Linked DNA regions of Homo sapiens. The protein of the gene in region 1 interacts with the protein of each later gene in a biochemical or structural test. Each region holds a gene or a part of one and is shown on either strand. Other genes may lie near its edges.

Region 1 (7,313 bases):
ATCACTTTGTTCAATTTTACTCATTAGTTTTATTACTATACTGAAGAAATCATCGTAGCAATCCTAAAATGTTAGGATTCACTTCTCTGATAGGCCAACTTTTATCTACCTAAAAAAAATGGCTATGATCATTAGGAATAACATAACAAGTGGGCAAAATATGGTAATTTAGAAGCAAATTATTAAAATAGCATATTCAAGACATACATTTTTTCAATTAGCTGTTTCTCATCCAAGGCATTAGGAAGATCTCTCTTGTTTCCAAGCACTAGCACCTTTAAAAAGAAAAGATATTAAGAGCACACGTTTATGCAAGAAAAAGTCACAGAAGTTTATCATCTTGATATGTGAAGACACAAAGTTAAGATGTTAACACATTCCACAATGTTAAGGCCTATTTGTGTAACTGGTGGCTTGTCTCATTCATTTCATTGCTCACACTTGTATTCACTCAACTCCCACCATGCAGGTGCTCTTAATTCAGTATGTGGCTGCCAACTGCTATGTAAAATAGTCTGAGTCTATGATACACATTCTGCTATTCTTTTTGTTTGTTTGTTTGTTTGTTTGTTTGTTTGAGACAGAGTCTCGCTCTGTCACCCAGGCTGGAGTGCAGCAGCCACTGGGCTCACTGCAAGCTCTGCCTCCCGGGTTCACGCCATTCTCCTGCCGTAGCTGGGACTACAGGCGCCCACCACCACGCCCAGCTGATTTTTTGTAGTAGAGACGGGGTTTCACCGCGTTAGCCAGGATGGTCTCGATCTCCTGACCTGGTGATCCGCCCATCTCGGCCTCCCAAAGTGCTGGGATTACAGGCATGAGCCACCGCGCCCGGCGGCATTCTGCTATTCTTAGTACAGGTTTACTATCCCTTATCCAAAATACCTGGGACCAGAAGTGTTTCGAATTTTGGAAATTTTTTGGATTTGCATTATATACTTACTGGTTGAGCATTCCTAATCCAAATGCAAATTCCTAAATGTATTCTAGAGACTGGCCTCTTCTCAGTTTCCCACTTCCTCCCACCCAAAGGCCTTTGCCTGGAACTCTCTTCCCCTCCAACTGTCATATACCTCACATTTGTATGTATCCCTTGGATCTCAGCTCAACCATTACTTCCTCGTGAATCCCTCCTTCTTCCCTCAAACTAGATCACATCTCCCCTCTAAATTACAACTCTCATATCCCCTTGCACCTTTCTTCCTAGCACTTAAAGCTGCATTATTCAAGTGTTTTCAGAGTATCTACCTTTCCCACTAAACCATAAGGTCCATGATGGCAAGGAGTATGTTTCTACTGATTTCCATTCATCACTATATCCCTGGGCCTACGCACTGCTCCTGCTGCATAGTAGTTTAGTAGATACGTGGTTATGAGATTCATATTTAGCACAATGCCCAGTATATGGCAGATACATGGTAAGCAAGTTTTCCAGATTTTAAAAATGAAGACATGTTACTGATTTCAAACATAATTAATATCACTGCATAATTACCATAATTAATATCATTATATAATTACAATGTAAAATAACAAGTATTCCATACTTACTGGAATTCCTTGTAACTGTGGTTTATCTAGAAGATTATGTAGCTCATTTCGGGAAGCTTCTATCTTTTCACGATCTGCAGCATCTATCATGTAACTTAAAAAAATGAAGTGATCTCAACATACCTTCTCTGTATGCCTTGATGATGACAACTAGTATTATTGATTTTTAATTTTTGTAAGATTTACATTATTGAAATTATTAACCAAAATAAACTATGTCATAAGAAAAGGCTCAGCACCCTTTAATACTTTTTAACTAGACTGTTTTTAGAGACTAATACATGATAGTAAAACATGTACACCCCTTAGCTCTTAGCTCCATAAACAAAAAACATAAAGATCTTATTCTATGATTAATTTTTTTTAAATCCCATGTTGGGAATTACACTAGGATATTAGCTAAGAAAGATTTTCACTGCCTGAGATAAAAATTGAGCCTCTGGAAATACTAAAATAAACTTTCTTCTTTGATGCCTACATTGATTTAAAAGCAAACAAACAAAAAAAAACCACTTACACAATAGCATTGACTCCTCTGCAATACCGCTCCCACATGCTTCGAAATCGGGGTTGTCCTCCTATGTCCCAGATCTTTAAATCAAAACAAGGCAATTCTTAATAAAGATATTTTAATTAAATGATTGCAAGAGGAAGTAACAGAAAAAAAGAAAGATCGGGAAGATATATTTATTTCTACAATGTTAGAGGCAAAGTGCTCCTGAAAGACTTGACCTCAAACAAGCTCTTAATATGGGAATTCTTGGGGCCACTTCTAAACTTGAAGTCCGTATTTAATACATTTACAATACATCTAAAATTTTGCTTAAGCAAAGATTTGGTTTATGTGCAATAGTTTGCCTGTTAACTAATATACTTCTATTATTGAAAACATATGTCTTTATGATAACAATTTAAAAGCTACAGGACCATGCACCATCCAGATTTGAATGCCAAGACAGAAAACAACAATTCAGAATCTATTAAGTCTTAATCGTCTGATTTGTTCTACATTAATGCCTAACCTTTTGAAATTATCCTGTAAATAAGTAGCCAACATTTCCACATAGGTGTTTTTCTTGTATAAAATTATTTTGGTCAGGCATGGTGGCTCACACCTATAATCCCAGCACTTTGGGAGGCCGAGGCGGGTGGATCACTTGGGGTCAGGAGTTCGAGACCAGCCTGGCCAACACAGTGAAACCTCATCTCTACTAAAAATACAAAAAATTAGCCAGGTGTGGTGGCAGGTGCCTGTAATATACTCGGGAGGCTGAGGCAGGAGAACCACTTGAACCTGGGAGTCGGAGGTTGCAGTGAGCCGAGATCACACCATTGCACTCCAAGCCTGGGCAACAAGAGTGAAACTCCATCTCAAAAAAATAAAATAAAATAAAATTATTTTATGCACATGAAAGCCACATCCATAATCATTTTATTATTGTGTCTACTCCGTAGGGCATCACACTAGACACTGGGCTACATTAAAGTCTCAAGTCACAGTATTAATCTTCAAGAGGCTTCCGGTTTAACTAAAGCACTGGTAACAAGCATAAAGAAACCTGCACTTGACTAAATCTGGAACTTCATTAGATGAGCCACAGAGAAAGTGAACAGCTTCTGTAAACCACAATAATTGGGCAAAATGGACATTAAGGCTCAGGCCATAGATTTGATTTTTGAAAAACAAAATAGATTAAAAATCTATTCTTGGCCAGGCGTGGTGGCTCACGCCTGGAATCCCAGCACTTTGGGGAGGCCGTAGCAGGCAGATCATTTGAGGTTAGGAGTTGAGACGAGCCTAACCAACATGGTGAAACCCTGTCTCTACTAAAAGTACAAAAAATTAGCTGGGTGTGGTGGCACAAGCCTGTCATCTTAGCTATTTTGGAGGCTGAGGCAGGAGAATCACTTGAACCGGGAGGTAGAGGTTGCAGTGAGTGGAGATCGCGACACTGCACTCCAGCCTGGGTGAAAGAGCAAAACTCTGTTTCCAAAAAAAAAACAAAAAAACAACAACAAAAAAACCTATTCTTTTGAAACATGCACATTCATTACTGAAAAACTGCAAATTTTCAGTAAAAACACAGAAATTTAACAGAAAAATTTCTAGGGGTCTGTGCTAACAATTTAAATTGCGTACGGCAAGAAATAACTTACCTTTATTGTGACGTTACCTTTAGTTACCTTCCTCATGTTGAAGCCCACTGTGGGTATCATATCTTCACTGAATTGACCTGACTGAACAAAATAAAACATTTGAAGTTAGGCTACTCACTTATAATGACACTGCATAAACTTCTAATATCAACATTGCATTTGTAACCATTTTAGTAAATATTTTTTTACCATTGGTAACAATCTACTTTAAGAACATGTTCCTTATGGCCATAATTCTTGAAGAGATGCATTATTTTGTCCCAACAAAGATATATTCTTCCATCTAAAAAAGATATTTTTGAAACTAATGTAATTTTTTACATATTTCCTTATGCTAAAAGAATTTTATATGACAAATACATACGAAAATTTTTAAATGTGTTCACCTAGATGTACATTTCCACAAAGTAGATGAGATCAGAAATAAAACTTTCAGCATTTAAATTATTCTGACAGTAACTATTAAAATTCACTGCTAAACAGCATTTCCAAGTCTGTCTTTTAATAAGGCTTATAAAATATTTTGTCATACAGAAGTTTTTCCTTTTATGTAATCAATTTTGTTCTCTTTTTGGTTACTTATCTCAATGTCATGAGTATTGTCTGCTATGGCCTTATGCTAGCCACATACACATGTATTCCAAAATTGTCTTAAATCTTGAGCACAACGAATTCCAACTGTACAAATAACTTCCTATACAGAACTCGAATTGTGCCTCTTTTAACTGTTCAGTGGAGTTTTATTAACTTCAGAAAAAATGTTAACACAGCCATAGTCACTACTTTCACTTATATAAGACATTATAATTCTCAGGACTTTCACATATGTGATTATATGTGAAAATCTAGTCATTCTATCTAAACTAGTTATATCAAAAGTAAGCCATGATAAAAGATAAATGGCCAATGAACTCATGAAAAGACGTTCGACTCACTAATCATTAGGGAAATGCAAATCAAACCCACAAAGAGATACCACCTAACATCCAGTAGGATGGCTACTATTAAGAGGAAAAGAAAAAAAACAGAAAGCACTGGAAAGAATGCAGAGAAATAGGAACTCTTGTATACTGCTGGCAGGAAGGCAAAATGGTATAGCTGCTATGAAAAATGGTATAGCAGTTCCTGAAAAACCTAAAAATAGAATTATCATATGATCCAGCAATTCAACTTCTGAATATACACTCAAAAGAAATGAAGACATTTTGCTAAATGAAATGAGCCAGAAGTCTCACACACTCACACACACACACACACACACACACACACACACACACAAACACTGTATTTCACTTTATGAGGTACCTAAAATAGTCAAATTCATAAAGACAGAAGATATTAATTTGCTTAATGGGTATGGAGTTTCAGTTTGAAAAGATAACAAATTTCTAGAAGTGGACAGTGGTGATGGTTACACAATGTGAATGTACTTAACACTACTGAATTGCACACTTAAAAATGACTAAGATGATACTTTGTGTTTTATGTATTTTACCAAAATTTTTAAAAAACTAGTCATCATACAGGGAGGGACAATTATCATTATCATTTCATAGAACAGGTAGTAGAGTCCCAAGGTCACATGGCTAAATCGTGATTATATTTTTCTTAAATATTTTCATTGTAATTATATTTATTGTGATAGGCTTTAATCTCTGAGGAGAGATCTACGTGAGATAATGCTCATTTATTTCATATCATTAAGTGTTTTACATAATGAAGAGGCAGGAAAAATAGTAGCTAAAATTTTTAGGTACCAAACTTTACAACTAGCTTGCATGGAAAGCTTTCTAAAAGGCAATATACACTTGGCTAACTTCCCACAAACAACCTATAGAACATGATTTAATGTGTTCTCAATGTTTCTGGGTCAGTTTATCTATTGCAAAACAAGAAAACTAAATTAGATAACACTCAAGGGCCCTCCCTATTGGAGGTAAAGTTTTATGATTATGAACATCAACTACAGCACTTCATAATAAAATAATGTAGGGGGCTGCAGTATACTGGGGTACCCCCGAGCTTTCTCAGGGGTTCATTTATCTCTTTTCTTTACCTTGGCCAACCCTAACAACTTTCCTGTAACTCAGCTGCTACTGCTAACATGCAAAAACCGAAAATTAGCTAATCAAGTCCTTGAGTTTTTACTCCAAAATTCTTGAGTAGAGCAAGATATTCAATAAATATTTGTTGAACAAACTAAGAGTTATTAGGGCCAGGCATAGTGGCTCAAGCTTGTAATTCCAGCACTTTGGGAGGCTGAGACAGGCAGGTTGCTGCGGCCCAGGAGTTCAAGACTAGCCTGGGTGACACGGCAAAACCTTCTCTCTACAAATACAAAAATTAGCCAGGCATGGTTATATGCACCTGTAGTCCCAGCTACTAGGGAGGCTGAGGTGGGAGGATTGCTTGAGCCTGGGAGGTGGAGGTTGAGATCTTAAGAACGATATGACTTTAAGACAAGATTGTGCCACTGTACTCCAGCCTAGACAATAGAGTGAGAGCATGTCTCAAAAAAAACATAGGCCATGAAGGAGGAAAATGCTGGAACTCTTCTGCCAATAAAGTGCTTAACTTTGATGCATGAATTTTGTGCAATAATTACTTTATGGACCTGGAAGTATTTTCTACTTCTTTCCTAGTGTCCAATCTTAATCATCACTTTTCAAAGCTTGTGTTGAACAACTATAACCACTCAGTTGGCAACTGGGCACTAGATACCTGAGAATTTATGTCTGAGCTGTCAAGAAGCTGCTTAATTAAGACTACAGGTTTGGGAAACAGATGTTTAGAAAATACTACTTAGTAGTATATCATTCTACTTATTTTAACAAATTTAACAAACACGTAATACTAAGCACTTAACATTCATCAGCATAGTTTAATCCTTATAACAACCCAATGAAATGAGTAGCATTATCTTCATTTCTCAGATGAGAAAAACAAGGCAAAGTCAGCTTAAGTCACTTGCCTAAAGTCACATTGTTCTTAAGATCTGGATAATTATGAGTTAATCTGACTTGGGGGGGAAAGAGTAGAAAAATAAAAGTAAGTAGTCCCTCCTTATCCTTGGGGGATACGTTCCAAGAACCCCAGTGGATGCCTGACATCACAGATAGAACCTAACCCTATGTACACTATGTTTTTCCCAATACATACATACCTATGATAAAGCTTAATTTATAAATTAGGCACAGTACTCTTCTGCTTTAGAGTCATTATTATTTCAGAGGTTGATCATAGGTAACTGAAACTGGAAAGCAAAACCATGGATAAGAGGGACTACTGTATGCTTTCATGCCTGCCTTCTTAAATGCCATGATCACACGTGGCACTCGCTGTGATTCTGTGATGGCAGATGGAGCTGTCACTGTCATAATGCTTACCCTCCTATAAGCCAAAGTTGCAAGGCAGTGTACCTGGAACTTGGTTGAACAAAATAAATCTGAAGCAAAATAAGATGGTGAAAAGAAGATTATTCTCAAAGTCAGGGAATCTTATTAACAATTATGCTACTTACTAACTAGATGCAAGTCATGTGACCTTGGGATTCAGCTTCCTTATCTAGAAAAAGGAAATTGGAAGAGTATCTCCAGTCACTTCCA
Region 2 (8,004 bases), on another chromosome or scaffold:
TTAGCTTTAAAAAAATGGTATAATAAAGCCCTACTACCGTCATCAGATTTCAATGGCTTCCTACTGTGAAATGCAAAAACAAATCAGAGAAAAGCCTAACCATTTTTAATCTATAAAGGATAAGATTAGGTACAATTACTTACTTTCTTTTAAAAAAAAGAACTGAACAATTTGTGAATGTGTCTTTCAGCCATTTACAACAGACTGCTGGGTTTTTTTTTGTTTGTTTTTCGTTTTTTTTTTAAACAGGGTCTTGCTCTGTTGCCCAGACTGAAGTGCAGTGGCACGATCATGGCTCACTGCTGCCCCGACCCTCTTGACTCAAGCAATCCTCCCACCTCAGCCTCCCGAGTAGCTGGGACTACACACCACCATGCCTGGCTAATTTTTGTAATTTTTGTAGAGATAGGGTTTTGCTATGTTGCCCAGGCTCGTCTCGAACTCCTGGGCTCAAACAATCGCCCCACCTTGGCCTCCCAAAGTGCTGGGATTACAGGTATGGGCCATTGTGCCTGGTCCACGACTAGTCTTTTTAAGATACTGACACCACTGGAGAGGAGAATGCCCACTCCAACTACATATTGGCTGTTAAAGCATCAAAGTGGAATGGTGGCTTGAGGGAAAATCATTAAAATGGAAAGGGCTAATTCTACTTCATAAAGTAAAAAAACTATTTAGATTTAGGTTCTTACATATATTTTAAAAAGGTAGGGTATTCTAGTGAAAAGTCATGAGCTATGGAGACAGAGGACTGGAGATTTATTATATTATAGATATAAGCCTGAGCACGTTACTCAAGTTGCCTGAATTTCAATTTGTTTATCAGTAAAAGTCAATCATTTAACACAAATTTATTAAGTAACAAGCAATATTCTAGGTATTGGACATACAGCAGTGAACAAATCCTTGTCAGGATGTTCCAAGCTCTGTGGTAAGAGGTACACAGAAATATACAGGGAAAAAAAAAAAAACAAATTTTATAATACAGTATGTCAAACGGTGATGCACATTATAGGGAAAAATAATGCAGGAAGGTTTCAAAGCATGGTCAGGGAAGGTCGCAATGAAAAAGAACACTTGGACAAAGACATGAAGGAAATGAGGAAGCCTGTAAATATCAGGGTTCCTCAAAAAGGAACAGCATGAGCAAAGAGGCCCTGAGATAGGAACCTGCCTGGCTTTTTGAAGACTAAGAGAGCCAGTACAGCTGATGCAGAGTCACAGAAGGGAAGGAGAGTAGTGGGAAAAATGAGGTCAAGAAAAGGTGGCTAAGGGCAGCTGGGTCAAGGTCCTGTGGGACAACCAGGCTACCGTAATGGCTGTGGCTTTTCCTCTGAATAAGATTAGAAGCCCCTGGAAAGTCTAGAATATCAGAGGTGTTTCACCCATGTATGAGAGTAAACATTTACCTCATAGAATTCTTTTGGGAAGACCAAATGCAATATGGAAGGGTTTTTAAAACTAGAAAATAATGTACAAATGTGAAACATTATTATATCCCTAATTTTGTATGTGTCATTTTTATATCAGACAACTTTGTTAAATTCTTCTTCTGCACTAAACAGTGGTAAATATTTCATAGGTTTTTTTCAATGGAAGAAAAAACAATGGTTTTTCTAGGAGCAACTCTCTCCATTTCTATTCCACTATATCTAAGAACATATGAAACTCAGTTTTTTGCTTTCAAATCAAACCATAAAACAAACATTTCAACATGAAATAAAGATGCACAATGTGAAAAACAATCTCACCCTTATTCAAAGGAGCAATGGCAGTCATGAAATGATATGTTCTTAATGAGTGTTTTCCTTTGAACTGCTAGAATGGAAATAGGAGTCTCTAGTGTTAGATAAGAGACTTTGTTATCTTGTTATCACAAGGACCAGCCAAACCAAATTTCTACCTAGTCAAACGTCTCAATTATTGGCATATATAAAATATATACAGAACAAATTTTCACTATGAAGTAAAAACAAATGAAGTATGTTGAAAATAGTAAAAATTATTGAACTAGGTAAATGACTCTTATGATACTAAACAGCCCATCATCAAGTCACTGTTTAGAGACAATGACTGCAACTGACAGCCCTGTTAACTTGTGAAGAAAAACAGTATCCAACTGAAATAACACTGGAAATGGAAACTTAAGTTATCTCCCCCAAGTTCTAGCCTCTTTTTTGGTCTGCTTCTCTTTTTTGTCTTTTTTATTTTACTTCGTCATTTCATAAAATGTGTGATTACCACTACTGCTATATGAAAATAATTCATATTCCCATCACCAATTTCTACCCTAAACTTCAGTGCCACGTTGCCAGTTGTTGACTGGATACTACCAGCAACAAATAATCCCATTTAATTTTTACTAAGCCCAACAGTTCTAAGTACTCTAACTTTGTGTATAAACTCCTCTCTCCATCTTAAACCACCCTCTGAGGACGGCCTTATTATTACCCCCATCTCACACTGGAAAGTTAAATAAGTAGCTCAAAGTAGCACATTGGGTAAGAAAAGGAACCAGCACTTGGACCCCAGGCATTTTTGCTCCAGAACGGATGCATTTAATCCCTGCTGCACCGCAACAGTGCTCCAGCTCTGTACCTAACTCCAATAGATACAAAACAAAACTCATCGTCTACTCTCTCCTAGTTCTTATTGTCCTACTTCAAGTGGAAAGCAACTTAAATTTCAGTCACCCGGCCTCTCTTCCTCCTCCCACAGGCAGTCAGTCCCTGAGGTAGCCGGGCCTGCCTTCATGCCAAAATTTCCCTGGGCAAAGGCCACAGGGATGGGGCCCGAGGAAAGGCAGCCCGAACGCGGGGGTGTGTCAGAGCGCTTTCCCTAGGTGCCCTCCCGGGGCTGGCATCCTCTCTGCTCCCCGAAACCAACTTTCGCCATCCCACCCCGCCCTGCCGCGGACCTGCCTTGCGCTATTCCAGCAGCTCCGCACCTCCACCCACTCCACTCCACCCTCCCCAAACAGCCCACCCTAGTCTCTATATCCCTGTGCCCTCAACTACCACCTGCACCCTTTACCTGCTCCTCTGCTTCCGCCATGGCGCCACGGGAGAGTCACCTGACAGACCCGGAAATAAGAGGAAACCACACACTTGGCCCAGGGCCTTCTGGGAAATGTAGTTTTAGCTTCATCTGAGCCTGGAAATCTCTTCTAGGGGACGGACCTGCTAGGGTTCATTTCTGCTGCCAATTCTCCAAACTCAATGGAATTCTGCTTTGAAGGATGTGAACATAACCATTGCTAATACTATAGCTTATTTTATTGTTGTTCTTGTTTCTCTAGTTATTCTAGTGTTTATTAAGCACTTACTATGTCATGCCCTGGGTTTATAGCTTTGCATAAATTATCTCATTTAATCCTCACAGCAATTCCTACTATCATCCCCATTTATAGGGGAGAATACCGTAGCTCAGAGGTCATGCAGCTAGTAAGAGGCAGAACTAGTAATAGAATTCAGCCCTGCCTGATGCCAAAGTCTCTGTGATTGCCAAATGCTGCTTACTCTAAAAGTGTTCTTGTCCTTTTTTCTCTCTCTTTTTTAAGTATATTCAGTGAATATAAAGCAGTCTTTGCAGTGGAGAGTCAGAGAAAATTTATACGCCAACAAATAATATCATTATTTTTGCTTGCTACTTTGTCTTCTCCTGTCATATGAACATTGATTTAAAAAAAATCTCTGTTGTTTAATAAATTAATTGTTAAACTTTTGTTGAGGATATTCAATAGGTAAATGTTCAAGTGAAGACACAATATGAAGTTGTCCTTGGTCAAAATCTGCACAACCACTGTATTACTTCCAGCCTTCAGAATGACTGATTCCTTCTCCATGTTTCTGAACATTATGAATTCTGTTTCTTAACCCTCAGGAATCTGCAGCACCTTGTCCAAAGACAGACATTTTACAATTTCCATTCACTGGAGTAGCTGGTGACCAGCAGAGGGCATTGCAAATGGCAGCATGTGGTGATTGCCTCAGTACCTTTTTTGACTCCCTGTGCCTCATTGACTCTGACCCAGTAGGAAGTCATGGACTCAGTACTCTGTCTGTAGCTTGCTCAACCCATGATTCCTCAATGGCCCAGAAGCCAAGGTGACATCATCTCTGAGACACCTGTCTTCTCCCCAGGGCCTAAACAGCCTTACCTCCATCTTCTTCCTCCAAGCCTTGCTGGGGTTCCTCTTCCAGTGGGCTAATCACTCAGCCGACAGGATAGACCACCCTGAGGCATTTAAATGTCTATAAGCAGCCAGGTGCAGTGGCTTTCACCTGTAATCCCAGCACTTTGGGAGGCCAAGGCAGTCAGATTTCATGAGCTCAAGAGTTTGAGACCATCCTGGACAACATGGCAAAACCCTGTCTCTACAAAAAATACCAAAAATTAGCCGGGCATAATGGTGTGCGCCTGTAGTTCCAGCTACTCAGGAGGCTGAGGTGGGGGTTAAGGCTGCAGTGAGCATTGATGGTGCCACTGCACTCCAGCCTGGGCAACAGAGTGAGACCCTATCTGAAAAAAAAGAAAAAAGAAAAAAGAAATCCATAAGCAAGCACCCAATGCCCTAAGTATAAACCTAGGGCAAGTATAAACCTAACCCAAGAGTTTCTAAAATCTCTTGCAAAGCAGCCCAGGGCCAAACATTGCTCATGATGAACTCCAGATCCCAGAAAAACTTTAATACAGACCAAAGAGACTGTGGAAGCCCTCAGTCGAGTATCCACGGGAAAGAGAAATAAAATGAGCTCTTCCACTTTTCTGACTTTCCTCACAAACTCCAATTTTCTCTTTTCTGTTATGAGTGACAGCCACCCATAAACCTCTAGGACTACAGCCTCTCCAACTGGGCAATCTCCTCTTCTATGCTGAATGGATGAGATTGGGATGAAGAAGGAAAATAAGGGATTATTACCACTGTCTTAACCACAAGGTCATTTTTGTTTTATGGTTCCATTTTATTTTGGTGAGAAGTCAAGCAGCCCAAGCAAGCAAAGCTGAAGGCCATCCACTCTGGGCCTTCCTGGCCTTTCTACTTTTCTGGAATGAGAATGTTTATTCTCTTTCTCAAGAAGGGTGTTATGGGTCTTATTAAAGATATAGCCAGACTTTATAGGTTTTCCTCTGCTCATTTAACCGTAGAAACTCTCAATTCCCCAAGTTTGTTCCGCATTCAGTATACTCTCTTGATTACAATAAAGTATTATGAGCCTCTTTCCTTTTGGAGAGACTGGAAAAGTGAAGAGACACAGGTATGGAAAGGTGAATTAGAGGAAGAAACCTACTATGAACTAGCAGGTTCGTGCTGGGACAGTGGACAGGATGAAATTCACATGTGACCTCCAAATCCCATTTGCTCATGTGAAGTGAGAGTTTGAGGCTCTCTTATCTAGGTGGTCTTGTATTCTCCAACTACTCTAAGTGTAGTCCAAAGACTACCTGGGAGCTTGTTAAAAATGAAGAATTTGGGGCCCTTTGAGAGATGTATTTAACCACAATCTGGATTTTAATAGTATCCCTCAGTCATATGCATATACTTTCAAGTTTGAGGAGTAGTCAGCCTAACAGTCACTGATTCTGTGTCAAATCACCTGCTCAGTCCACCCTCTCCCAACTTCAAGATACGGAGGTAAAGGGCTGGGCGCAGTGACTCACGCCTGTAATCCCAGCACTTTGGGAGGCCAAGGCGGGCGGATCCCCTGAGGTCAAGAGATCGAGACCATCCTGGTCAACATAGTGAAACCCCGTCTCTACTAAAAATACAAAAATTAGCCAGGCGTGGTGGTGTGCGCCTGTAATCCCAGCTACTCGGGAGGCTGAGGCAGGAGAATCGCTTGAACTCGGGAGGCGGAGGTTGCAGTGAGCCAAGATCACACTACTACACTACAGCCTGGTGACAGAGCAAGACTCTGTCTCAAAAAACAAAAACAAAAACAAAAACTAAAACTAAAACAAAAATGCAGATGGAGGTAAAGGTAAGATTCAACTTCTCATTCTCAGTCTATAGGACCTAAAATTGTTAATAGACTTCAGAAAACAGACCTAAGACCTTATATTTGTAGAGTGGCTCACTGGTTTCAAGGATCTGTCTCATATGTTTGTTTCGTAGGTCTGAAACAGTTTACTAACTCAAATTATAGCCATTTTATTCGTGACAATAGCATTATTTCATTGCTTAAACAATATGAACGGCTTTAATATTTTCCATTATTAAATAGCATTTATAAATTCAGGAAACTTGAAAAATCGGCAAAGTGGACAAAGTTAAAATAATTCACTCTTATGCCCTTGCTAATTAGGGGATGTGTTGTAGATTCTTTTCCCAATCTTCAGCTTCCATTCCTTCTTAGATTGCTACCTTTCTCAATCTACAGGTGTGACAGCTAATGACAAGCAAATTTACACCACATTACACTACTAATTCCAAGCTACAATCTTAGCCTTTATTTAATTAACTGTACCAAATAGCTAAAAGAATATTGATGTTATCTTTAGCAAATTTGGCCAGCCTCAGCTTATTTTGCAGTTTAGTTTTTCCAAAACTGTACCTACTGAAACCTGTTACCTTCTAATATTCTAAATGTCATTTTAAGATATAGCTTATTGGAAATTTCCCTGAGCAACCACATTAGATTTTCTTAATAACATTTTTCTAATTACAAAAGTACTATGTGTTCATAATAGATAACTGGAAAAATACAATAAATTATAAAATAAAATTCTAAAACCACTCATGATTTCTCCACTTAGATTATGATTGTTGGATATATGCCTTTCTTTTTTCTTCTCTTTTTTCTCTCTCTTCCTCCTTTCCCCTCTCTGTCTCTCTGTATTTATTTAAAAACTTGTCCAACAAAGATCATATTACCAAGTTTTGTCATTTTTTTTTACTTAGTCATATTTCAAGATTGTTTCCCAATAACAATCTTGTAAAATATTCTTCTAAAACATGATTTTAATAAAACATGATTTCACATTATAATTCCATCGTATGAAAAGTAATGTATATAATCATTCTATTTTGTTGTATACTTTAAGTACATCTAATTAACATCCCTGTGCATAATTCTGGAAAATGCTATAATGCAAGGTGGTATCAACTGCAGGAATAAAGATCATCCAAATGAGAAATGCCATTGAGGAGTTATTCAGAGCTTACTCTAGAAAGGGAGTCAGCCACCAGCACTTGCGCTGTGGCAGAGACTCAAACACAGGCACAAGAGTGGGAAGGTAGGAAAAGGGAAGGCTTCAGGTAGGCCCTGGTTGGAGGCTGCTGGCATGAGAAAGCTGCAGGTGGGGTAACCAGAAGTGGGGCAACCTATGTGATTGGTAGGGGTGGATATTTGGTTTTCTCTGGTTGCTCTTAGTTGGAAGTGGGAGTAAAAATTAAGGAAGTTGTCAACTACCAATAAAGTCCTGGTCATTTTAGGCTGATTGTTTCAGAGGTTATAGTTAAGGTTCCTGGATTGTTACTAGAGATGGCAGTTTTGACTGTCAGGCTAGATTCCTGGGTTTTCTATTGTGGACAATGGCTTGGTTTCCTGGGCAATTGCTGCAGCTTGCTTCAGACTGTGGGTCAGAGTTCTATTTTAATATCTGGTCTGGCCAGTGCCCCTTTATATATTCAGTCTCTCACAATTTATTCTACAGTGAGCTATATATGAGAGCTCTAAACCCTCCTACCATCAAACATTAGATATTATCATTTTTTACACATTTCATTAATTTAGCTTGGGGAAAATAGTATTAATATTTTAATTTTTGTTTTAACTGTATGTCTTTGATTTCTGATGAGGGGATGTTTTTCATAAATTTACTGGCCATTTTCAACTTTGTTCTGTCCTTTCTACTCTTGCTCTTTACCCATCTTTTGTGGGAAAGTTGATCTTTTCCCTATTTGGCTTGTAAAAGAAATGTTCAGTAGATATTTGGTTATTTGGTTTGAAGCTAGGAGGAGTCTGGTGCTGGATGTAAATAATCTGAGGTCTTCAACATATA
Region 3 (7,313 bases), on another chromosome or scaffold:
AACATTTTAGCAAATTAGGTTAACTTTTTTTTCTTAATTTTTAAAAGTTTTATCCCCACAGAAAGGCATCTCATCTAACACTTTTTTTTCTTTTTTCTTTTTTTTTTTTTTTTTTGAGACGGAGTCTTGCTCTGTTGCCCAAGCTGGAGTGCAGTGGCGCGATCTCAGCTCACTGCAACCTCCGCCTCCCGGGATCACGCCATTCTCCTGCCTCAGCCTCCCGAGTAGCTGGGACTACAGGCGCCCGCTACCACGCCCAGCTAATTTTTTGTATTTTTTTTTTTTAGTAGAGACCGGGTTTCACCGTGTTAGCCAGGATGGTCTCGATATCCTGACCTCGTGATCCGCCCGCCTTGGCCTCCCAAAGTGCTGGGATTACAGGCGTGAGCCACCGCGCCCAGCCTCATCTAACGCTTTTAAAGTAACCTGGCTACCAGAAACTTTAAAATTGCCTATATAGCTTGCATGCTATTTCTATTGGCCAGCGCTGCTCTAGGACGTCGCTTCTGAATACAGGAACCTTGCCTGTTCTGTACACTGCTGGCATTTCAGCATCTAGAAGGATGTCTGGCGCTGATGAAAAAATGCTGAGCAAACACCCAGCCCGAACTTCCACGCTCCCAAACGCCCCCTCAGGCTCACCTTTCAGCCCATGTTTGAGGCAGTGCTCCATCACTACAAAGAACTGCTGCAAGGGGGCATGGTCCGCATCCAGGCTGCGGCCCAGGCTCAGAGCCGACTGGAGCAACACCTTGATGCTGAGTTTCATCATGTGCATCAGGTTGGCACGCTCCTCCATCATCTGGCACTTAGAAGCTGTGGGGCAGGAGCAGGGATAGCTTCGTTAGTGGACTGAGCGTGGGGAGGTCAGACTCCGGGCAACGGTGAGAAGACGGGTCAGGCAGGAGGCCAGGCGGTCTGCTTAGGGAACGGACGTGCTGGCGGGCGGGCAACCGGGATTCGCAGGTAAGTAGTCCCTGATCCCTAGAGGCCACAGCCCCCTACCTGGACGGCGGGGCCTTGGGTCAGAAGAGCCACTGGGCCTCCTGCTCCAGAGGCCTCTCCCAGACGGCTCCGCGCGTTGCTACGGCGACGGCTTTAGCAAGACTCGCCGCGTTTGGCTTCTCCCGCAACCCCGGTTCCATTTTTGACCAATGGAAGGGCGCTACCTACAGGAAGCCCTGCCCCAAGCTCTTAGAGGGCGTGCTGGGAAAGCGTCCCGCCCCCAAACATTCCTATTGGGCGAGTCCAGCTCAAGGCCTCTCCTACGGAGCTGGTGGGCGCCATTTTGCACCCTCTGTCCCGGACGGAGGAGGATGCGCACCCCGCCCAGAAGGCTTTTCCAGCCTTCTCTCTTGCCGGATAGTGCCAGCCGGGTGCCTGCAGGGAAGCATCTTCCCCTCAGCTCCAGGCTCAAATTCTTGTTGCCGATCTTTCGTCCGCTACTAGTGGACAATTTTAGGTTTTACGCACACTTTGTTTTTTGGTAAGGAAAACCGTTGGAGTCAAATGAATTCAGAGAGTTCCATTTCAACTCCCATTATCTTGTCGCATTGCCTTGAGGGTGTAATAAAGACTGTGTGCAATTATCATCAGATATCTATACGTGCTGGCCAAATGCTCTCTGAAACCCAGTAAGCTGGTATCCTAGAAACTAAAAGTTTAGATCCCAAAGTAAGAGTCCTGGCAGGAAAGTCCCAGGTGCGAAGCGCGGCCCTCACCCGGGCGCGCGCGCGCGTTTACATTGTCTTGGAAATATTTGCCAATTGGAATGGGGGCGGGGGATCGTATTGTTTTTGGTTTGCAGCTGTCCAATTACTACTGAGGTTAAATAACTTCTGTTTATTCTCTGCTAGTATTTCTTCTGTGAATTGCTTGCTCAATTGACTTTCGTGTTGAATTGCTTGCCTTTGTCTTACTGACCTGTATATTTTGGATACTAATCCTTTACCTGTTTTATTTCACCAGCATTGATTAATATGGACAATTAAAGAGCATATTTATACGTACTATATTTTTATATAGTTAATTACAGTTAAATCTGAACGATAATATTATGGCCGTGAACTTGTAGTAAAGGTCTTAAATAAATACTGAGACATCCTGGGACTAAAAATTCAAAATTATCTCAGCAAAACCCAAGAAGGTAGGGGGAGAGCTGCTGGGCAAGAAGAAACAGCCTAAGCATTTCACCTTGGTTGTGGAGAGGGTTAAAAGTGGCTTAAGTAAAGCATTTCGTTGGGGGTGGTATAATTTTTTTTTTTTTTTGAGATGTTGTTTCACTCTTGTTGCCCAAGCTGGAGTGCAATGGCGCCATCTCGGCTCACTGCAACCTTCGCCTCCTGAGCTCAAGCAATTCTCTTGTTTCAGACTCCCGAGTAGCTGGGATTACAGGCATGCGCCACCACGCCTGGCTAATTTTGTATTTTTAGTAGAGACGGGGTTTCTCCATTTTGGTCAGGCTGGTCTCGAACTTCCAACCTCAGGTGATCCGCCCGCCTTGGCATCCCAAAGTGCTAGGATTACAGGCGTGAGCCACCATGTCTGGCCAGTATAATTATTTTTATATTTCGAGAGAAGCCTATGTATTATATTTATAAATTTTAAAACTGTAATGGATGATTGGCAAAGGAAATAAAACTTGTAAAACTTCATCAAGAGAAGGGAGAAACTCTGAAGACAGCAATAACCATAAAAGCAATTTGTAAAGATTTATCTTTAAAGAAGACACCAAGCCCAGTTCTATCATCTAGTGGTCTTGAAATTGGAATACATATACAGCAGTCTTGCCAAAGCTAGGTATGCCCAGATGTTTTAAGGAACTCAATTTCCAGATTTTCAAGTTTCACAGGCACTCTTTCTCCTCCCTCTAAAGAAGGGCAACTCACTCCATAACCTGTCTTCCTCTTGATACGGTGACCTGGGGTGCCCTAGGTTCCATACACCAAATGGAGGTGGTGTCGCCCTTGATGATTAAGTAATCAAAAACATGAAGACCAGCCTTTTACTGCTTTATGGTATTCAGTTAAGCTTGGTCTTGGGGCAGAGGGGTGGTCTCTAACCCTCTGCTTGGGTGTCCTAAATTTAGAAAATTAAATTTTTCTCCCTACAAATCTATGTAATTATGTTCAACCAGTCAATATTCACAACCCTAAGATGTGCCATTAGCTTGATGGCCATTTTCCGTAAATTAAATGAGCCCAAACTGCAGCTAAGTATTTGATGAAAATGGATTTGAAATACATGATAAACTAAAAGTATTTTTGTCAAAAAGTACTGTATTGGCAAAGGTGAATGAAATAAGCAATACTCAGATGTCTCCAACCATTCTGAGTATTCTGGGTTAAACAAAGTGCCTAAGTGAAAGAATAAGAAGTGAAATTATCCCTTGATAAGTCTTTTTTTCTTTTGAGATGGAGTTTTGCTCTTGTTGTCCAGGCTGGAGTGCAATGGCACGATCTTGGCTCACTGCAACCTCCGCCTCCTGGGTTCAAGAGATTCTCCTGCCTCAGCCTCCCCAGTAGCTGGGATTACAGGTGCCCGCCACCATGCCCAGGTAATTTTTTGTATTTTTAGTAGAGACGGGGTTTTACTATGTTGGCCAGGCTGGTCTCGAACTCCTGACCTCAGGCCATCCACCTGCCTCAGCCTCTCAAAGTGCTGGGATTACAGGCATGAGCCACCGTGCCTGGCTCACACTTGATAAGTCTTGGTAAAACTTTTGTTTTGGTAACTCCCAACAGTTGAGAAATTTTCTTAATATGATTAGGTTGCAGGTCAGGTAATTTTCAATTATTTGCTTTGAATGAAAATAAGGGAACAAAAAATAATTTTTGGCTTTAGATCAGTGTGATTTGGGGCATATAACTTGGAAAGAGTTCAAAGATGACCAACATTACTAAAACAAACAAACAAAAAACAGGACTAAAACTGATGCTGAATTCTATCACGCTTTAGCAGTAAATCATATATATTCATCTACAGATATATGCTAATGACAAAAACCAACACCATTCATCTCATTTAGAGATGCAATTCATTGGCTGGGCGTGGTGGCTCACGCCTGTAATCCCAGCACTTTGGGAGGCTGAGGCAGGCAGATCACCTGAGGTCAGGAGTTCGAGATCAGCCTGGCCAACATGGTAAAACCCGTCTCTACTAAAAATACAAAACTTAGCTGGGCGTGCTGGCGTGCACCTGTAGTCCCAGCTACTGGGGAGGCTGAGGTGGGAGGATCACTTGAACTCGGGAGGCGGAGGTTGCAGTGAGCCGAGATTGCGCCACTGCATTCCAGGCTGGGCAACAGAGTGAGACCCTTCTCAAAAAAAAAAAACGCAATTCAAGAAAAATTTATGTATAATTCTTTATAAAAATTATATTTATGTTCCTGTTACCAATGTAGCATTACTAATAAACTTAATGATAATTCACTCCAGAAGAAAAATTTTTATACACTTAGAGCTTCAGTCACAATAAAAATTTATTAAACTTTAACTTATTTACATACTTTTTGCTGAGACTTATAAGATGACCAATAACACTTTTAAAAACATACAAATCTATTACATTAATTCTATGGCAGAAGTGGAATGGAAATCCAAGTTCAATGAATAAAAGGGAAAATGTAAAATTTTCAAATATTAAATAACTTGCTATTTTAAAGATGGATGGTGGTAATTATCAATTCATTAAGGTATTTACATACCACTTGATACATTTCAAAAAACAATGTAACAGTTTTATTTTAAAAAGTCAATATTTACACTATGCCAGAAAATGAATTCTGAGCAACTTTAAAATATGATGAATAATCTTATACGTTAACTTTAAAAGTTAAGTTTTCGGCTGGGAGCAGTGTCTCATGCCTGTAATCCCAGCACTTTGGGAGGCCGAGGTGGGCAGATCACTTGAGGTGAGCAGGTCACTTGAGGTCAGGAGTTTGAGACCAGCCTGGCCAACATGGTGAAACCCTGTCTCTACTAAAAATCCAAAAAATTGAGAAACACCCAAGAATGATCAATTAAAAAAAAAAAAAAATCCAAAAAATTACCTGGGCGTGGTGGTGCATGCTTGTAATCCCAGCTGCTTGGGAGGCTGAGGCAGGAGAATCGCTTGAACCTGGGAGGCGGAGGTTGCCGTGACCCGAGATCACGCCATTGCACTCCAGCCTGGGTGACGAGCAAAACGCCGGCTCAAAAAAAAAAAAAAAAAAAAAAAAAGTTGGGAGTTTTCTTAGGGGGTTACATGAGCAAAAAATGTTAAGACCAGTGTTCCAGGCAATCAGCGCTGGGTGGTGCTGTCTCTGGAAGTGCTGCTGGCAGTGTTTTGCCATCTCATGCATCCCCTACTATGGGGTTACCTGTACCCATTAGCACTCAAGTTAGAGGCATGGAAAATTAAACCTGGAACGATCTTTTAGCGGTTCTATCTCTCAATTTTACTGGCTTTGTGACCTTGGCCAAACTATTCACATCTCTAAGCTTCATTAATAATAGTTCAACATGACACAGAGAATATCGTGAAGTTCTACACCTACTGAATTGCCAAATAAATTGCCAGGCCAGTATCAGACTCCTGGGCTCAAGCAATCCTCTCTCGTTGGCCTTTCAAAGTACTGGGATTACAGGCATGAGCCACCTGCACCCCGCCAGCATGTTAATTCTTAAAACACGCATGTTTGTTACTCATCCTTTAGGAAGCATTACTCTAAAAAGCAAGATACATTCCTTGTGGGTACATCCTATTGCTTGCGTGAAAACAGCCAGTGTTGAGAGAGGAAAGCACATGTGCTATGTGCGGAAACTCTCAAAGATACAATAGTACTGGGGAAAATTTCTGGGAAGGAGGATTTAGTATTTGTCCTTTTTTTTTTTTGAGACAGAATTTTGCTCGTCACCCAGGCTGGAGTGCAGTGGCGTGATCTTGGCTCACTGCAACTTCTGCCTCCTGGTTTCAAGCAATTTTCCTGCCTCAGCCTCCCGAGCAGCTGGGATTACAGGCGTGCGCCACCACGCCCATCTAATTTTTGTACTTTTAGTGGAGACGGGGTTTCACCATGTTGGCCAGGCTGGTCTCAAACTCCTGACCTCAAATGATCCGCCCGCCTCGGCCTCCCAAAGTGCTGGGATTACAGGCATGAGCCACCATGCCTGTCCGAATGTTCTTTTGTATGGTTTGATTTTTAAAAATCATGTTCGCTTATTACCTTAAAAAAAAATCCCCCAAAACCAAACAGGACACCTATGGACAATACAATCACATACCAGACCCCACATGGGAAAACTTTTCTTTTCTTTTTTTTTTTGAGACAAAGTTTTGCTCTTGTTGCCCTAGCTGAAGTGCAATGCGGCGATCTTGGCTCACAGCAACCTCCACCCCCCAGGTTCAAGAGATTCTCCTGCCTCAGCCTCCTGAATAGCTGGGATTACACGCCTACGCCACCATGCCTGGCTAATTTTGTATTTTTAGTAGAGACGGGGTTTCTCCATGTTGGTCAGGCTGGTCTCAAACTCCCAACATCAGGTGATTCACCCACCTCGGTCTTCCAAAGTGCTGGGATTACAGGCATGAGCCACTGCACCCGACCGGGACAACATTTTAAAACAAGTATTCAAAATATTCCGCAGCATTTCCTTTAGCTTCTACCATTGAAAAAATATCATCCAGCAAGAGTGCTGCTCACATTCAATCTCTGCTCCTAAACTGCTCCCTCTGAAAGTCCTGCCTGTCCTCATTGCTTGTGTAGGCAGATCAGTGGGGAAAGAGAATGAGTCAGCCTTGGGCCTGGCCCTGGCTGAAGTGGTGTCACTGTCTTTCTCCCATCCTGTTTTTCTTGTGTCGCTGCAGAGCGAGCCGCCCTTGGCCCATTTCCTTTCCCACCTCTGCTCCTGTCCTACCTGATGGCTTCAAATCCCGGTGACCTTTGGGACCAGCCTCATGGCTCTACCCAGCAGTTCCCCAAATTTCATCTCTTTGTAAGCCATGGTCACCATTTTGCTAGATTGAGTGGTAGTTATTAATACTTTCCTTAAATTGAGTTAATTATTATTTTTTGAGATAGTCTCGTTCTGTTGCCCAGGCTGGACTGCAGTGGAATGGTCTCGGCTCACTGCAAACTCCGCCTCTTATGTTCAAGCAATTCTCCTGCCTCAGCCTCCTGAGTAGCTGGGATTACAGGTGCGTACCACCAAGCCCGGCTAATTTTTGTACTTTTTTTTTTAGTAGAGATAGGGTTTCACCATGTTGGCCAGGTTGGTCTCGAACTCCTGACCTCAGGTGATCTGCCTGCCTCGGCCTCCCAAAATGCTGGGATT
Region 4 (7,313 bases), on another chromosome or scaffold:
TCCAAAGAAGGGCATGAGAATGCTTGGCTAAAAGAATAATGATTACCTGTAGCTACTATTTCAAACAATCCATAATCGTGAACATTACTGCTATCACAAACTGCTTTTCAGGCTAAGTGCGGTGGCTCATGCCTGTAATCCCAGTACTTTCAGAGGCTGAGGCGGGTGATCGCTTGAGCCCAAGAGTTCAAGACCAGCCTGGCCAACATGGCAAAACCCTGTCTGCACTAAAAATACAAAAATTAGCCGGGCATGGTGGTGCACATTTATAGTCCCAGCTACTCAGGAGGCTGAGGCAGGAGAATCACTTGAACCTGGGAGGCAGAGGTTGCAGTGAGCCGAGACTGCGCCACTGCACTCCAGACTGGGCAACAGAACGAAACTCTGTCTCAAAACAAAAACAAAACAAAACTGCTTTTCTTATTGCTTTTGTACATCTGCTTCAGAAAGCTAAATTTAGCATATAGAGGTGTCACTTGCCAGCCAGGTCAGTTTCAGCAGTGTACTATTTTTGCTGTTTGGTAGTATATGCACGATTATGTAAATATTTTCATTTACTTTATAAAAGTGAGTGAAAAGAGGAAAAAGAAAACATGTGGACAAAAAACTCAGTCTCCACTTTAAAAGATGGCAATCACTGGCCAGGCTTGGTGGCTCACGCCTGTAATCCCAGCACTTTGGGAGGCCAAGGTGGACAGATCACCTGAGGTCAAGAGTTCAAGACAAGCCTAGGCCAACATGATGAAACCCCTTCTTTACTAAAGTACAAAAATTAGCCGGGCATGGTGGCGGGCACCTGTAATCCCAGCTACTCAGGAGCCTAAGGCAGGAGAATTGTTTGAACCCAGGAGGCGGAGGTTGCAGTGAGCCGAAATCGCGCAGCTGCACTCCAGCCTGGACAAGAGCGAGACTCCGTCTCAAAAAAAAAAAAAAAAAGATGGCAATCACCAAGCATGTCCCAGCTGGGATGCTTTTGGCCTTATCTGCATGCTGACTGTACTTAAGCTGCCAATGCTGTGTTCAATTGTGTATAAAACTTCTGCAAATATGTCATCAGAGACTGGGAAGAAGACTCCTCTTATTACACGCAGGCCTATTGTTGGACTTACACTCTAGAATTCTGGGACAGGAGTGTTGTGTATGGGTTGAACCATTGGTAGTCTGAGTTTGAATCCTGCCTCTACCGGTTATTACACCCTTGAATGTCAGCTTATTTTACTTTTTTTAATTTTTGAGATGGAGTTTCACTCTTGTCGCCCAGGCTGGAGTGAGTGCGGTGGTGCAATCTCGGCTCACTGCAACCTCTGTCTCCCAGGTTCAAGTGATTCTCCTGCCTCAGTCTCCCAAGTAGTTGGGATTACAGGCACCTGCCACCACGCCCAGCTAATCTTTTTTTTTTTTTTTGTATTTTTAGTACACCATGTTGGCCAGGCTAGTCTTGAACTCCTGACCTCAGGTGATCCACCCGCCTCAGCCTCCCAAAGTGCTGGGATTACAAGTGTGAGCCACCGCGCCTGGCCAAATGTCAGTTTATTTGTAAATTGGGGGTAATAGTTGTACCTAGGCTCAAAAGGTTGTTGTAAAAATTAAATGAGAGAATACATTTTTAACACTTGGAGTAAATAATTCCTAGCGGAAAGTAACTAATCAGGCCAGATGTATATTTTATTGCATTCAACTGATCATCTGTGCATCACCTCTCAATGTCAGACTCCTTATCCCTAAAAGAAGGTTAATAGAAAAGCACATATTTTGGCTGGGTGCAGTGGCTCACGCTTGTAATCCCAGCACTTTGGGAGGCCGAGGCAGGTTCAAGGAGTTCAAGACTAGCCTGGCCAACATGGTGAAAACCTGTCTCTACTAAAAATACAGAAATTAGCCAGAAATGGTGGTGGGTGCCTGTAATCCCAGCTATTTGGGAGGCTGAGGCAGGAGAATCGCTTGAACTGGGGAGGCAGGGGTTGTAGTGAACCAAGATTGCGCCACTGTGTTCCAGCCTGGGTGACAAGAGCGAGACTCCATCTCAAAAAAAAAAAAAAAACGAAAGAAACAAAAATGCATATTCCTGGATAACTGATAACTTGTGGATTTTTAATCAATTATTTTCTTATTTATAGAGGTCCAAGAAAGGACAATGCTAAAACTTGAGTTTAAGCTACTACTAATGTTCATCTTTAGTCTGATAAATAACTTGTTCAGACTACTCTATAAAGATAGATATAAAAATAGAAATATAAAATAAAATGGCAATGTATTGAAGAATCCGGCTTAAACTGCTGTGGCTTCAGCTACTGCTTCATGAATAACTACTAATATAAATAGCTACCATTTATAGGGTGCTTTACATTAAGTATCTCATTTAATCCTCCTAACCTCTGAAGTAGTTACCGTTAATATTCCCAGTTAAGAGGAGAGAAAAACTCAAGCATGATGGCTCACATCTATAATCCTAGCACTTTGGGAGACAGAGGTGGGCAGATCACTTGAGGTCAGGAGTTCGAGACCAGCCTGGCCAACATGGGGAAACCTCGTCTCTACTAAAAATACAAAAAATTAGCTGGGTGTGGTGGTATGCGCCTGTAATCCCAGCTACTCAGGAGGCTGAGGCAGGAGAATTGTGTGAACTCAGGAGGTGGAGGTTGCAGTGAGCTGAGATCGTGCCATTGCACTCCAGTCCAGGTGACACTGTGAGACTCTGTCTCAAAAAAAAACAAAAAAACTCAAGCATGAAGTGATCACTTGTGCAACGTCACATGACTACTGAGTACTGGGTAAGGAACTGAATCCAGGTCCAGGTCCAAGCCACAAAATCCATACTTTTAACCACTATCCTATATTATCTCTAAATTAATGACCATCACAGTAGCTAAAACACGAATTGCCAAATCAACCCCATTATTGTACTAATTCCTTTACTGTTCTCAAATATACCCCATATTGACAGCAATAAAGTTTTCCATTGACTAATTTATCCACCCAACTCTAAAGAGACTCATTAGGTATCCAGCAGATTTCTTCAGTCATTTTGAATTCTGTGTCAAAATTCTACTTAGAAATTTCCAAATCTCAAGGCCTCATTTAAAAAAAAAAAAAAAGAAATATCCAAATCTCCACAACAAATTTCCTTTTGTAATCGGAAAAAAGTCTTATTTAAAAAAATCCAACTTAGCTTCACTTTGAAAAGCACACAAAAATTATTTTAAATTGCGATTTTTAACTTGCCTGCCACTCAAACCATATAAATATCCGAAAAATGATAACAGAGAGTAGGAATGTGGAAGAAAAAAGAAAATAGACCAAAAGCTGGACATTTAGTTTAAGAACAAGGAATTGGACTTAGATCACAAATTATATTTTAAAAAAATCTGTCTGAAACACTTTACAGAGTAAAGGCAGTATATGCAAAATAACATTTTCTTTTTTGAAATATGATACTACTGCTGTCTTTTAGGCTAATTTCAATTCACAGACAGTCCCTGGCTTATGAGGGTTCAACTTCCGATATTTCAACTTTACAACGATGAGAAAGTGATATGTGTTCAGTAGAAACCCTACTTCAAATTTTGAATTTTGATTTTTTCCCGAGCTAGCAATACGCCAGGTGATCCTCTCTCACGATGCTGCGCAGCGGCAGCAAGCCGCAGCTCCCAGTCAGCCACACCATCCTAGTCAGCCACACGATCAGCCACAGATCAGGGTAAACAACCAATACGCTACAGGGTACTGTGCTGCCAGATGATTTTGCGCAACTGTTGGCTAATTTAAGTCTTCTAAGCATGTTTAAGGCAAGAGAGGCTAAGCTACTTAAGCTATTAAGTTCAGTAGAGTAGGTGTGTTAAGTGAATTTTCATTTTATGGTATTTTCAACTTAGGATGAGTTTCTCAGGACATAACCCCATCTTAATTCAAGGGGTATCTGTAGTCACTTGAGACAACAAATGAGTCAGGATTTCATTCTTTAAAAATCCTCTTTAAAGTGTAAAAATTTTTATTAACATATACATTTCTAATTAGGTAAACTTATTAAGGGTAAACGTGTTATAAACTGAGTCATAGCTATAGTTGGTTTTGTTGTTAAACACTCAATAATACTGAAGGTAATACTATCCCTGCCCTTCACGTATGTGGACATGCGTATACATAACATGTATTGGTGAATTTCTTTAAAAAAATCTTTTTTTTTTTTTTTGAGACAGAGTTTCTCTCTTGTTGCCCAGGCTGGAGTGCAGTGGCACGATCTCGGCTCACCGCAACCCCTGCCTCCTGGGTTCAAGCGATTCTCCTGCCTCAGCCTCCCGAGTAGCTGGGATTACAGGCACCCGCCACCACGCCCAGCTAATTTTTTGTAATCCCAGCACTTTGGGAGGGCAAGGTGGGTGGATCGCCTGAGGTCAGGAGTTCAAGACCAGCCTGGCCAACATGGTGAAACCCCGTCTCTACTAAAAATACAAAAATTACCCAGGCGTGGTGGCGTCTGCCTGTAATCCCAGTTACTAGGGAGGCTGAGGCAGGAGAGTCGCTTGAACCTGGGAGGCAGAGGTTTCAGCGAGCTGGGAACTCGCCACTGCACTCCAGCCTGGGCAACAGAGTGAGACTCTGTCTCAAAAAAAAAAAAAAAAAAAGTTATTACTTTCCTGATCCTAGAATTATATGTAACTTGTTTTGAGAATGTTACTCCAAGAAATTCAGATACATATGAGCATGTGACTTAAAAAAAATCGCAAAAATAAAATATACCACTTCATCTCAGTAATAACACCATTTCTGAAATTAATATAATGATGCTTAAAGGTCTAACTGAAGCGTTCTGCTTCCATTCTTGAAAAAAACAGAGAACACATGTTCTCTAAAATTTTCATGGTGCTTTAAAAGTTCCTTTACTTTGAAATTCCACTTACTTCCAACATTGCTTCGGTTAAAAAAAAAAAAAAAAAAAAGGAAAGAAATCCCACTACGCTTTCACAAAGTAAAACAAACAAACAAACAAAAGTCTGAGAGGTTATTTCAATGGTGGTACATGTTTCCCTAAATTAAGAAAATGCAAAATGAATTTTCTATAAACAAGGCTGCTCCTCTAGCACTGACATGGCACAAGCAAAGTAAGAAAGTAAGCCACATTCTCACATCTCTGAATGTCCATTTAAGTCTCACTCCTTTTATCTTCACCCCCGCCTTTCCATGTGAGGATTCCAACTCTTAATGTAAATTAGGGTACAGACTTAAGCCAGGATATGTAATCTGGAAAAGTATAAATCTGATTAATGCTTCTGTGGGGCGGGTAGAAGGCTCAACTGAAAGAGTAATGGGCGGGGCACGGTGGCTCACGCCTGTAATCCCAGCACTCTGGGAAGCTGAGGCGGGCGATCACCTGAGGTCGGGAGTTCGAGACCAGCCTGACCAACATGGAGAAACCCTGTCTCTGCTAAAAATACAAAATTAGCTGGGCGTGGTGGCGCATGCCTGTAATCCCAGCTACTTGGGGAGTCTGGAGAGTCTGAGTTAAGGAGAATTGCTTGAACCTGGGAGGTGGAGGTTGCAGTGAACTGAGATAGCGCCATTGCACTCCAGCCTGGGCAATAAGAGCGAAACTGTCTCAAAAAAAAGAAAAAAAAGAGTGATGGTAGTGCTTTTGTTAGTCACAATCTATTAAGCATCAACAACTCAAATGTTCTCTTCCTTCTATATTCCCTACTGGTAAAGGGAACCTAGCTTCTGCAGCCAGAAGTTGGAGAGTCATCCCAGGCACTGCCTTATGTTCATTCTCCAGCCACCCAGCCCCTCAGTCATCGGGTACATTCTGCTTTTCCAGGGATTGTTCCTTTGGTGTTCACTCTTGCTACCTTAATGTGAGATTGTCATCTCTTACCCAGACCATTTTAAAAGTTATAGTTAGGGGTCCCTGAGAGCTTATATCCTTCTGATCCATTCACTACACTGTTGCCAGAGTGATCATTCCAAACACAAATCTTATTTTATGTTACTCCCAGACATAAAGCACCAGTAGCTTTTCACTACAGAATCAAGTGCAGGCTTTTCAGTATGAATAAGATTTCTACAGTCAAGCCCCTGCTTATCTTTCCAGTCTTGCTCCCTGTTGTGCCAAACAGAAGCCCTCTGTGCTCCTGTTGCTATTCCCTGGCTGGGCCAGCTCACTGTGTACTGTTTGAAATGCCCTCCCTATGTCGGTCTGGTGATCACCTGTTTATCTCTTAAGGTCTCACTTAATGAAGCCTCTCCTGACCCTTCTCCTGTGGAGTCAATCACAGGCTCTTGCCTTTAGGGGAAATCTATTTGCAATTAAACTTGTTGTAGATTTGCTGTTGGCTTTTGAAAATAAGAGTATATAAGCCGGGCATGGTGGCTCACACCTGTAATCCCAGCACTTTGGGAGGTCAAGGAGGGTGTATCACCTGAGGTTGGGAGTTCGAGACCAGCCTGATCAACATGCAAAAACCCCGTCTCTACTAAAAATACAAAAATTAGCTGGGTGTGGTGGCGCATGCCTGTAATCCCAGCTATTTGGGAGGCTGAGGCAGGAGAATCGCTTGAACCCGGTAGGCAGAGTTTTCAGTGAGCCAAGATTGCGCCATTGCACTCCAGCCTGGGCAATAAGAACAAAACTCTGTCTCAAAAAAAAAAAAAAGAGTATATAAGACAAAAGAGAGATAATCCCTCATTGACCACCAATAAGCATTGAGATAATGAAGTGAATGCTTTTATTTTCATTTATTTAAGGGTTAAAGTAGGCAGAAACTCTAGGTCCAGGCCTATACTGCGGACTGCTCAGTGAAGGGCCAGGAACTCTGGTTTTAAGAAAATAAAATATGGAAGCCACAGAGCCTCTATTGCTGAGTACACACAGTCAGTCTACATCATTTTAAGAGGGAACATTATGCTGTTTGCCTATTTTCTTTTGTGGGAGTGAGGAGACTTCACTCTAGGATTTGGGTGGTCAGATGTTTTTCCCTCTGTGAATCAGCCCGGAAAGCAGTCTGAATACTCCCGCGTCCAGACATCAGGAGTTCCATTTTGTGAACAAGGTGAGATTCACATAATCATGGGCCTGGTGACCACCACTTAAATGCTTATAGCTAAATTAAATCTAATAACTATCAGTGGTATTAACATAAAAGTGGGTATTTCTTGGGACCAAATGACTGTTTAAATATCCAGAGTTTGGTAATGGAGCAAGGCAGTAATACTCACAGGCTTTCATGGGACTATGCTTTCTTTATTTTCATTTCTAGTAATTTAAAATAATAGCTTTCTTGCCCAATTTAAGGCAAAATTCTAAAATGCACTGTCGGCATTTC

What was found.
Region 2: the proteins of ARL8B (region 1) and VPS41 form a complex in vitro, tested with the Homo sapiens proteins (one study listed by BioGRID).
Region 3: the proteins of ARL8B (region 1) and RUFY1 form a complex in vitro, tested with the Homo sapiens proteins (one study listed by BioGRID).
Region 4: the proteins of ARL8B (region 1) and RUFY3 form a complex in vitro, tested with the Homo sapiens proteins (one study listed by BioGRID).

The regions. Positions count from the first base shown.
Region 1 is NC_000003.12:5,166,979-5,174,291, reverse strand, and holds part of ARL8B (ADP-ribosylation factor-like protein 8B), read right to left. Parts: intron 3,790-7,313; coding exon 3,709-3,789; intron 2,143-3,708; coding exon 2,069-2,142; intron 1,646-2,068; coding exon 1,552-1,645; intron 276-1,551; coding exon 208-275; intron 1-207. UniProt on the Homo sapiens protein: Small GTPase which cycles between active GTP-bound and inactive GDP-bound states.
Region 2 is NC_000007.14:38,906,121-38,914,124, forward strand, and holds the start of VPS41 (vacuolar protein sorting-associated protein 41 homolog), read right to left. Parts: upstream 3,072-8,004; 5' UTR 3,055-3,071; coding exon 3,034-3,054; intron 1-3,033. UniProt on the Homo sapiens protein: Plays a role in vesicle-mediated protein trafficking to lysosomal compartments including the endocytic membrane transport and autophagic pathways. Acts as a component of the HOPS endosomal tethering complex.
Region 3 is NC_000005.10:179,553,528-179,560,840, reverse strand, and holds part of RUFY1 (RUN and FYVE domain-containing protein 1), read right to left. Parts: intron 5,188-7,313; exon of another isoform or gene 5,051-5,187; intron 1,111-5,050; exon of another isoform or gene 817-1,110; coding exon 643-816; intron 1-642. UniProt on the Homo sapiens protein: Activating adapter involved in cargo sorting from early/recycling endosomes. Regulates retrieval of proteins from endosomes to the trans-Golgi network through interaction with the dynein-dynactin complex.
Region 4 is NC_000004.12:70,724,664-70,731,976, reverse strand, and holds part of RUFY3 (protein RUFY3), read right to left. Parts: intron 1-7,313. UniProt on the Homo sapiens protein: ARL8 effector that promotes the coupling of endolysosomes to dynein-dynactin for retrograde transport along microtubules. Acts by binding both GTP-bound ARL8 and dynein-dynactin.